Regions from separate parts of the Homo sapiens genome. Here region 2 is linked to region 1. The links come from fine-mapping of genetic effects on gene expression. A gene starts in region 1. The other region holds a variant in brackets. All regions are shown on one strand. Distances are from middle to middle.

The links. PIP is the estimated chance that this variant, and not a neighbour inherited with it, causes the effect.
Region 2: its variant is the best candidate, but not a certain one, in a credible set for the expression of ZNF500 in lymphoblastoid cells (GENCORD, PIP 0.72).

The regions. Positions count from the first base shown.
Region 1 is chr16:4,765,252-4,769,637 of GRCh38, forward strand. ZNF500 (zinc finger protein 500) reads right to left here and starts at 1,911. Exons shown (of 6, transcript NM_021646.4): 1 at 1,766-1,911; 2 at 314-825. The coding sequence starts at 727. RefSeq lists a silencer at 1,658-1,957 and an enhancer at 3,150-3,229.
Region 2 is chr16:4,226,500-4,230,885 of GRCh38, forward strand. All of the region lies in intron 1 of SRL (sarcalumenin), which reads right to left. Among named protein-coding and RNA genes, the nearest start is that of SRL, 13 kb to the right of the region's middle. The variant C/T (reference allele first, on the strand shown) is at 1,861.

The DNA.
Region 1 (4,386 bases):
GATCACACCACCATAGCCTGGGCAACAGAGCGAGACTATGTCTCAAAAAAAAAAACATGTTTGGCCTACCCTAGGACAGTGTTCACAAACCATCTGCACTAGCTAATAAAGGGCTATTGGGGTAGGATGAGGTTAATCAAAGGGTGGACACCCATTAGCCAAGGCTGAGAAATCTTTTGCAGTTGCTTTCCTCAAAAGGGCTCAGGGGCCAGGCAGCCACACTTGGTCACCCAATGACCAAGGAATCTGCAGCTGCAGACCCCAGCAGCAGGGCCCCATTTCCTCACCTGAGGGTCAAAATGCCCCCACTCACCCGCTGCCTGTGTTTCCTGGGCTTCCGCTGCAGCCCTTCCACAAGGACCACGGCCTCCTCACCGCTCTCCGGCTGCTGCTCGCGTACCCGAGCCTGGATCTCCCCCGGCAGCACAGTCAGGAACTGCTCCAGCACCAGCAGCTCCAGGATCTGCTCCTTGGTGCGCAGCTCCGGCCGCAGCCAGCGGCAGCACAGCTCCCAGAGGCGGCTCAGGGCCTCCCGGGGCCCAGCCACCTCCTGGTAGCAGAAGAGCCGGAAGAGCTGGCGGAAAGTCTCAGGGCTGGGGTCCTCCGTCTCCACGGAGGGCTCCTCTTCCAAGCAGAAGTCCTCCTCCACCTTCACAATCAGGATCTCTTCCTGTTCCAGGTCCTGCTCCAAGGTTGGCAGGGGCTGGAGGCCAGGGACAGTGGCCATTGCTTCCGGTGGGCCTTGTTCCTTTTCAGGCCTTAGAGTTGAACCTGTCTCTCTCTATACCTCTGGCCAGACACAGGAAGAGAGTTTTTTTCAGGGCCCTGTGGAGAGACGATAAAACCATCTGAAGGGCAGCCCTGGGGCTGGATAAGCCCTTTGGCCTGGGAAGCCCCTGCCCTGGTTCCAAGGCCAGCTCACCCCACCATGGAAAAGGAAAAGGAAGTGGATGAATGTCATCTTTGTTATTAACCCCCTGTTAATTCCCGGGTAATTTACTGAAGGGCTCTGGGCTTTGCTTCCTCACTGGGCAAACAGAGATGATAACAGGACCTACACACACAGGTTGCTGACAGAACTAAAAGGGATGGCTGGGGGCAGTAGCTGACGCCTGTAATCCCCGCACTTTGGGAGGCAGAGGAGGGCAGATCACGTGAGTTCAGGAGTTGACCACCTGGTCAACGTGGTGGAACCCTGTCTCTACAAAAAATACAAAAATTAGCCCGACATGGTGGTAGCACATCTGTAATCCCAGCAACTCGGGAGGCTGAGACAGGAGAATCGCTTGAACCCGGGAGATGGAGGTTGCAGTGAACTGAGATAGCGCCACTGCACTCCAGCCTGGGCGACAGAGAGAGACTCAAACAAAAACAATCTAAAAGGGATGTTTGCGGTCAGAGCTCGAGAATCGTTATTTTCCATGATTAGAGTGGGTCCTATATGGAAGGGGTTCCTTTGGAAATCTGATGAAAAGTAGGGCCTTTCTGCAGACTCTGCCTCAACTTGATCCCCGGTGTCCAGGTCTGGCGAACCCTGAAGCCCCTACGCGGCCCCGTCAGGCACCCCCGCGTGGGTGGTCACGACAGCCCCCCAATTCCAGGGTCCTGGGAGAGCTGGGACCCCCAGGCCGGGCTGCTTTCCCGTCTCATCCCTCAGGTGGAGGGTGAGCGGTACCCGAGGCCGCGGCACAGACCCGGGTGCTGGCGCGGGCCGCGAAATCGAAGCTTCGGCCGGGACCCGCGTCCCCGCGCCCCCCGCACTCACTGGAAGCGCTGCCGGCCGTGGGCAGTTCGGGGCAGGACCGGAGCGGCGGGTCTCGGCGGGAGTAGGACTGCGGGCCTCAGGCTTGGCAGCCAGGGACGCCAGAGCCGGGGCCGAAGACCCTAAACCAGGGGTGCAAACCAGGCCGTGCGGGTGGGCCCGCAGGCGGCATTGTGGGTAACGTAGCCGTGGCACCATTGGCTAAGCCGGCCGTTGGGGGCGTGGCAACACGGCCGAGTGGGCGGGTCCGCGACGTGCACTGTGGTTAATGTGGTCCTCAAAGGCACGCATTGTGGGTAACGTAGTCCAGCACCTCGGTGACCGCGCGAGCGTGCGGCGACTCTGCAGCCTCTGGGCTACTTTCCCAGTCACTGTTCCACACCCGCTCCGCTCTCCTCTGGCCGCCTCCTCCATCTTTAAAGCCAGCAAAGTCGTCCGGGCACGGTGGCTCACACCTGTAATCCTAGCACTTTGGGAGGCCGACGCGGGCGGATCACCTGAGGTCGGGAGTTCGAGACCAGCCTGACTAACGTGGAGAAACCTGGGCGTGGTGGTTCATGCCTGTAATCCTAGCTACTCAGGAGGCTAAGGCGCAGGTTGCAGTGAGCCGACATCCTGCCATTGTCCTCCAGCCTGGGCAACAAGAGCGAAACTCCATCTCAAAAAATAAATAAATAAATAATAAATAAATAAAATAAATAAAGGCAGAAGTTGTTCAAGATAAAACTGGAAGAGATGCCAAGTGCTTGCGCCCACCCTCCCCCAAGAGGGCCCCCAACAACGTCCAACCCCAAATATCCCTTGTCCTGCCTGCTTCTTTCTGACAACATAATAATGGGCATCAATCTTTGTTGTTGTTGTTAGAGATGAAGTCCCACCATGGTGCCTAGGCTGGTCTCAAACTCCTGGGCCCAAGCAATCTTCCCGCCTCAGCTTCCCAAAGTGTCAGGATTACAGGTGTGCCCAGCCAGGTATCAATTCTTGTATGTATGTATTTATTTATTTAGAGACAGGGTCTCACTCTGTCGCCCAGGCTAGAGTGCAGTGGCTCGACCTTGGCTCACAGCAACCTCCGCCGCCCGGTTTTAAGCAATTCTCCTACCTAACCTCCCGAATAGTTGGGATTACAGGCACGAACCACCAGGTCCGGCTAATTTTTGTATTTTTAGTAGAGATGGGGTTTCCCCATGTTGCCCAGGCTGGTCTCCAACGGCCTCAAGCAATCCACCCACGTCAGCCTCCCAAAGTGCTGAGATTACAGGAGTAAGCCACCGCTCCCGGTCGCATCAATTCTTGAGCATCAAGCAAGCAAAACACATTTGTACTTCGTTTCTTCCTCATTTAGTAATAGAGGTACTATAACTAGACCTACCGGTTCAACAAAACAAAACAAAACCCTGAAGCTCTGAGAGTTTTAAGTATTGAACCCCCCAGAGAAGGTCAAACAGGAAGTACAGAAATGGGATTGGAACCCAAATCTTTGATTCCAGAACTTCAGCTCCTAACTACCAGGTTAACGTAGTTTGCCCCTAATCCTAACTTGGGCATCCTAAGGCCCGTCTCCTATGCTGGATTCTCGCTGCTTTTCCTCTTTGGTTGAACATGATCCGGAGTTTCCCTCTGCCTGGGGTGCCCAGGAAAGAGTCCCAGCACCGAGTTCGGGTGAGCAGCAACGCAGCATACACAGCAGGCGTACACTCAACGTACGCCCCGCCCCGCACAAGCTCCGCCCCGCATGCGCGCCCCGCCTCGCATCCCGGATCTACCCCCGGAATCTCGCGCGTCTTTCCCAAAGCATCGGCTAGGACTCAGCCCGCCGGAAACAAATTTGGGGACGCCGGATTCAGGAAGCTGGCAGGACTACATTTCCCAGAGCGCCCCGCGCCCTCCCCGGAGGCAGATTCCTGGGCGCTCTAGAGGGGGTGGGTTGGCGGCCTGGAGGGTCTCCTCAAGTGGCGGCACTGCCAGGGGCTCGGAGGAAGGGGCTGCAGTCTCCCGGTGGCAGCGTCCTTGTCGTCGAGACTGCGGGCGGTTCCCTTGCGCGCCCTGAACCTCAGTTTCCATATCTGTTAATGGGGGACATTAACCCTCAAGGTTGTAACTCATTCAAGACCATTCATCCAGGCATAATAAATGCATAAACGCTGCACGTTGAGTCCTCCCAACTGCCCCCTTAACTAGGCGCTCGGGTGATGGAGTGGTGGCAGGTGCCTGCTTTCATGGAGCTTGCCATGAGAGGCATACAGTGGACAAAATTACCATGAGAGGCATACAGTGGACAAAATTGCACGAAGAATTGTTTAATCACTTCTTTGGCAAATGTTAGCAAGCGGCGTAAAAGAGGGAACCTGATACCTTCAGGGTGGAAGTGACAGTTGAGCAGCCTAGGGTTAACCTGGGGAACCGGTGGGGAGGATTCCAGACAGCAGGAGTGAAAAGTGCAAAGGTCCTGGGGCCGGAGAGAACACGGTGCGTTTGAGGAACAGAATGGAGACCAGAGATTGGGAGATGTGGCTGGAGGGATGGGCAAGGCCTGACCATACTTGGAGACTCTGGTGAGGATTAAGGATTTTATCCTTGGAGTCAATAGAGTTTGGGGTTTTAAGTAGGATAGCATCGTGATC
Region 2 (4,386 bases), 540 kb before region 1:
TGGAAGGATGGATGGATGGATAAATGGAGGGACAGATGGATGGACACATAGATGGAAAGATGGATGGATGGGCAGATGAATGGGTGAATGGACAGATGGATGGATAAATACATGAATAGATAAATAAATGGGTAGATGGATGGAAGGAAGGAAGGGTGAATGGAAGGATGATGGATGGTTGAATGTGTGGATGAAGGAATGGAAGGATGAATGGAAGGAAATATGGATGAACAGATGGATGGAAGGATGGAAGAATGGGTGGATGGATGAATGATAGATGAATGGGTGGATGGATGGCTGAATGGATGGATGGATGGAAGAATGGACGGATGGATGGATGGATGGAGGGGTAGATGGATGAATGGAAGGATGGATAGGAAGAAGATGAATGGAAGGATGGATGAATGGATGAATGGATGGATGGAAGGATGAATGGATGGGTGGATGGATGAGTAGATGCATGGACGGGTGGATGAATAGGTGTGTGGGTGGATGAGTGGGTGGATGGATGGATGAATAGATGGAAGAATGGACTGATGGATGGATGGATGAATGGATGGATGGATGGATGGATGATGGATGGATGAACAGATGGATGGATGGATAAATGGGTGGATTGATGAATGGAAGGATGGATGAAAGCAAGGATGGATGGTGGATGAATGGAAGGGTGGATAGATGAATGGACAGACGGACAGATAGATGGGTGGATGGGTGGATGAGTGGATGGGTGGGTGGATGGATGGATGAAGGGATGGGTGGATGGATGGATGGGTAGGTGGACAGATAAATGGATGGATGACGGATGGATGGGTGGATGCATGGATAGATGGGTGGATGGACAGACAGATGGGTGAATGGCTGGGTGGAAGGATGGGTGGATGGATAGATGAATGGAGAGATTGATGGATGGGTAGACTGATGGATGGAAGGATGGATGTGTGGGTGCGTGGATAAGTGAATGGATGATGGGTGGATGAATGGATAGATGAGTGGATGGGATGAATGGGTGGGTAGATGAGTAGATGGATGATGGGTAGATGATGGATGGGTGGATGGATGGATTGGTGGACAGATGGGTGAATGGAAGGATGGATGAATGGATGGATCGATGGTGGTGGTGGCAAAATGGAAGACCTTCCGTCAACCCCACTTGCGTTCCAAGAGACAGGAGAGGACCCAGATTCAGAACCAGGGAAGTGCTTGCCTAAGAGTAGGCTGTGTCCTCAGGCCATGTCACCTAACCTGTCCAGGCCCGCTTCTCATTATTAAAAGGCCCCAGAGGAGCTGCTTTCCACACCTTTCATCATGTGACAGCTACATGAACTGAACTGCTGAGTTGCAGGGCCTCCTCTTAAAGACCTTAAGATCTTATTGGAGGGAAAGGCAAGCAGGCAGAAAGATGGAACTAACTTCAGGGCAGCTCCTGAGCAGGAATGTGAACCCAAAGGGCTGAGCGAAGGAGCCCATGAGGAAGTGAAGTCATTTGGGGTGGGACACTGCAGGAGCCCAGCCAGGTGTGTGGGGACAGTGGCTGTGGTTAGGACAGTGGGACACAGCCAAAGGAGAGCCTGGGATGCTGGTCTAAGGAGGGCAGCCTGGGATTCCTGGACCGGGCCTCCCTGACCATTGGTGGCCACTTCTGAAAAGGCCTGAAGGCCGGGAGCAGTGGCTCACGCCTGTAATCCCAGCACTTTGGAAGACTGAGGCAGGTGGATCACGAGGTCAGGAGTTCAAGATCAGCCTGGCCAAGATGGTGAAACCCCCTCTCTACTAAAAATACAAAAATTAGCTGGATATGGCGGCGCATGCCTGTAATCCCAGCTACTCGGGAGGCTGAGGCAGAGAACTGCTTGAACC[C/T]GGGAGGTGGAGGTTGCAGTGAGCCGAGATTGCACCACTGCACTCCAACCCGGGCGACAGAGCGAGACTCCACCTTGAAACAAACAAACAAAAAGGCTGGACGCAGTGGCTCACACCTACAATCCCAGCACTTTGGGAGGCCGAGGCGGGCGGATCACTAGGTCAGGAGATCGAGACCATCCTGGCTAACACGGTGAAACCCCGTCTCTACTAAAAATACAAAAAATTAGTCAGGCGTGGTGGCGGGCACCTGTAGTCCCAGCTACTCGGGAGGTTGAGGCAGGAGAATGGAGTGAACCCAGGAGGCGGAGCTTGCAGTGAGCCAAGATCATGCCACTGCACTCCAGCCTGGGTGACAGAGCAAGACTCCGTCTCAAAAAAAAAAGAAAAAAAGAAAGAAAAAGTGAAAAAGAAAAGGCCTGAAGACCCCGGGGCTGGGGAAAGGTGGGGACCAGTCTCCTCACTCTTGTTCCCCTCCAGAACTGGACTGAGCCACAGCCACAAGCTTCAAGGGCTGCCCAAACACCCCAGACTCTGGGTTTGGGACCCCTACCACCCACAGCGAGAAGACACAGCCTTCTAGTGGGGGACCCCTCCTTCTAGAGAGGGAGAGGTCATGAGAAAGTGAACTTCTCAGCAACATTCAAGAAGGTTCCACACACACACTTATGTGTTCACTGCAGCGTTACTCACAACAGCAAAGACACAGAATCAACCCAGATGCCCACCAACGGTGGCCTGAATCAAGAAGATGTGGTACATCTACACCATGGAATACCAACCAGCCATTAAAAAAAATCATGGCTGGGCGCAGTGGCTCGCAACTGTAATCCCAGCACTTTGGGAAGCCGAGGCGGGTGGATCACAAGGACAGGAGATCGAGACCATCCTGGCTAACACAGTGAAACCCCATCTCTACTGAAAATACAAAAAAATTAGCCAAGCGTGGTGGTGGGGACCTGTAGTCCCAGCTACTTGGGAGGCTGAGGCAGGAGAATGGCGTGAACATGAACCCAGGAGGCGGAGCTTGCAGTGAGCCAAGATCACGCCACTGCACTCCAGCCTGGGCGACAGAGCAAGACACCGTCTCAAAAAAAAACAAAAAACATGTTGTTTGCAGAAACATGGATGCAGCTGGAGGTCATTATCCCAAGCGAATTAAGGCAGAAACAAAAAACCAGAGACTGCATATTCTCACTTATAAGTGGGAGCTAAGCATTGGAGACACATGGACATAAAGAGGGGAACAATAGACACTGTGGACTACTAGATGGGGGAGTGAGAAAGAGGACAAGTGTTGACAAACTACCTATTGGGTACTATGTTCACTATCTGGCTGATAAGATCAACAAAAGCCCAAACCTCAGCATCATGCACTACATCCATGTAAAAAACCTGCACACGTCCCCCCTGAATCTAAAATAAAGTTCACTCAGAAGTTCTTCCTCTGAGGAGCTTCTGCAGATGAGGAGGTGCTTCCACATCCTGCACCATCTCCTGCTTGGCTGCTGTGCCCAAGGCCAAGACTTTGAGGGGACTGCGTGCTGGGGCCTCGTGCAGAAGAAGAGCTGGGCCTCAGGTCACAGAGTAAGCTGGTCCTGGGCTTCCAGCTTCTTGCTCCCTTACTCTTTTCATCACACAGGCAGCCAGGACCCAGACCTCCATCCCTTTCCCCTCTCTACCTCACCCTGCGTCAGAGACACACCCCCTAGGAACTGGGCAATTCTGGTCAATTCTCCCCACCCGGGCAGCCACCCTCCTACCTACCACCACTACTAGGCCGGGCTACCTCCTGAGATTCTCTGCCTGAGCCAGTCCTCCATCTGTTCATTCAACACACTTGCCCGGGTGTGTCTGCAGAGCTCCAGATCAGCCAGGGGGGGCAACCCATGAGCTGTGGAACAAAGTGGACCAAGGAAACAGGTACCCCCTCCACCCAGTGGAAGACCATCCCCTAGGAGAAAGCCCCCCAAAATTAGTGTATCTCTAAAATTCATATCCACCTAGAACCTCAGAATGTGATTTTTTTTTTTTTTTTTGAGACAGAGTCTTGCCCTGTCGCCCAGGCTGGAGTATGGTGGTGCGATCTCGGCTCACTGCAACCTCCACCTCCCGGGTTCAAGCGATTCTCCTGCCTCAGCCCCCCAAGTAGCTGGGATTACAGGCGGGCACCACTATGACTGGCTAATTTTTTTTTTTTTGTATCTTTAGTAGAGACGGGGTTTCACCATGTTGGCCAGGCTGGTCTTGAACTCCCGACCTCGTGATCCGCACCCCCTTGGCCTCCCAAAGTGCTGGGATTACAGGTGTGAGCCACCACACCCAGGAAGAATGTGACCTTCTATGGAAACAGGGTCTTTGCAAATGTAATTAGTTAAGATGAGATCATACTGGATTAGGTGGGCCCTAAACCCAACATCTTCAATGTCCTTAGGTGATGAGGAGAGGACACAGGGACACACAGACAAGGGAGAAGGCCACATGATGACAGAGGCAGAGAGTGCAGTGATGAAGCTACCACTCAAA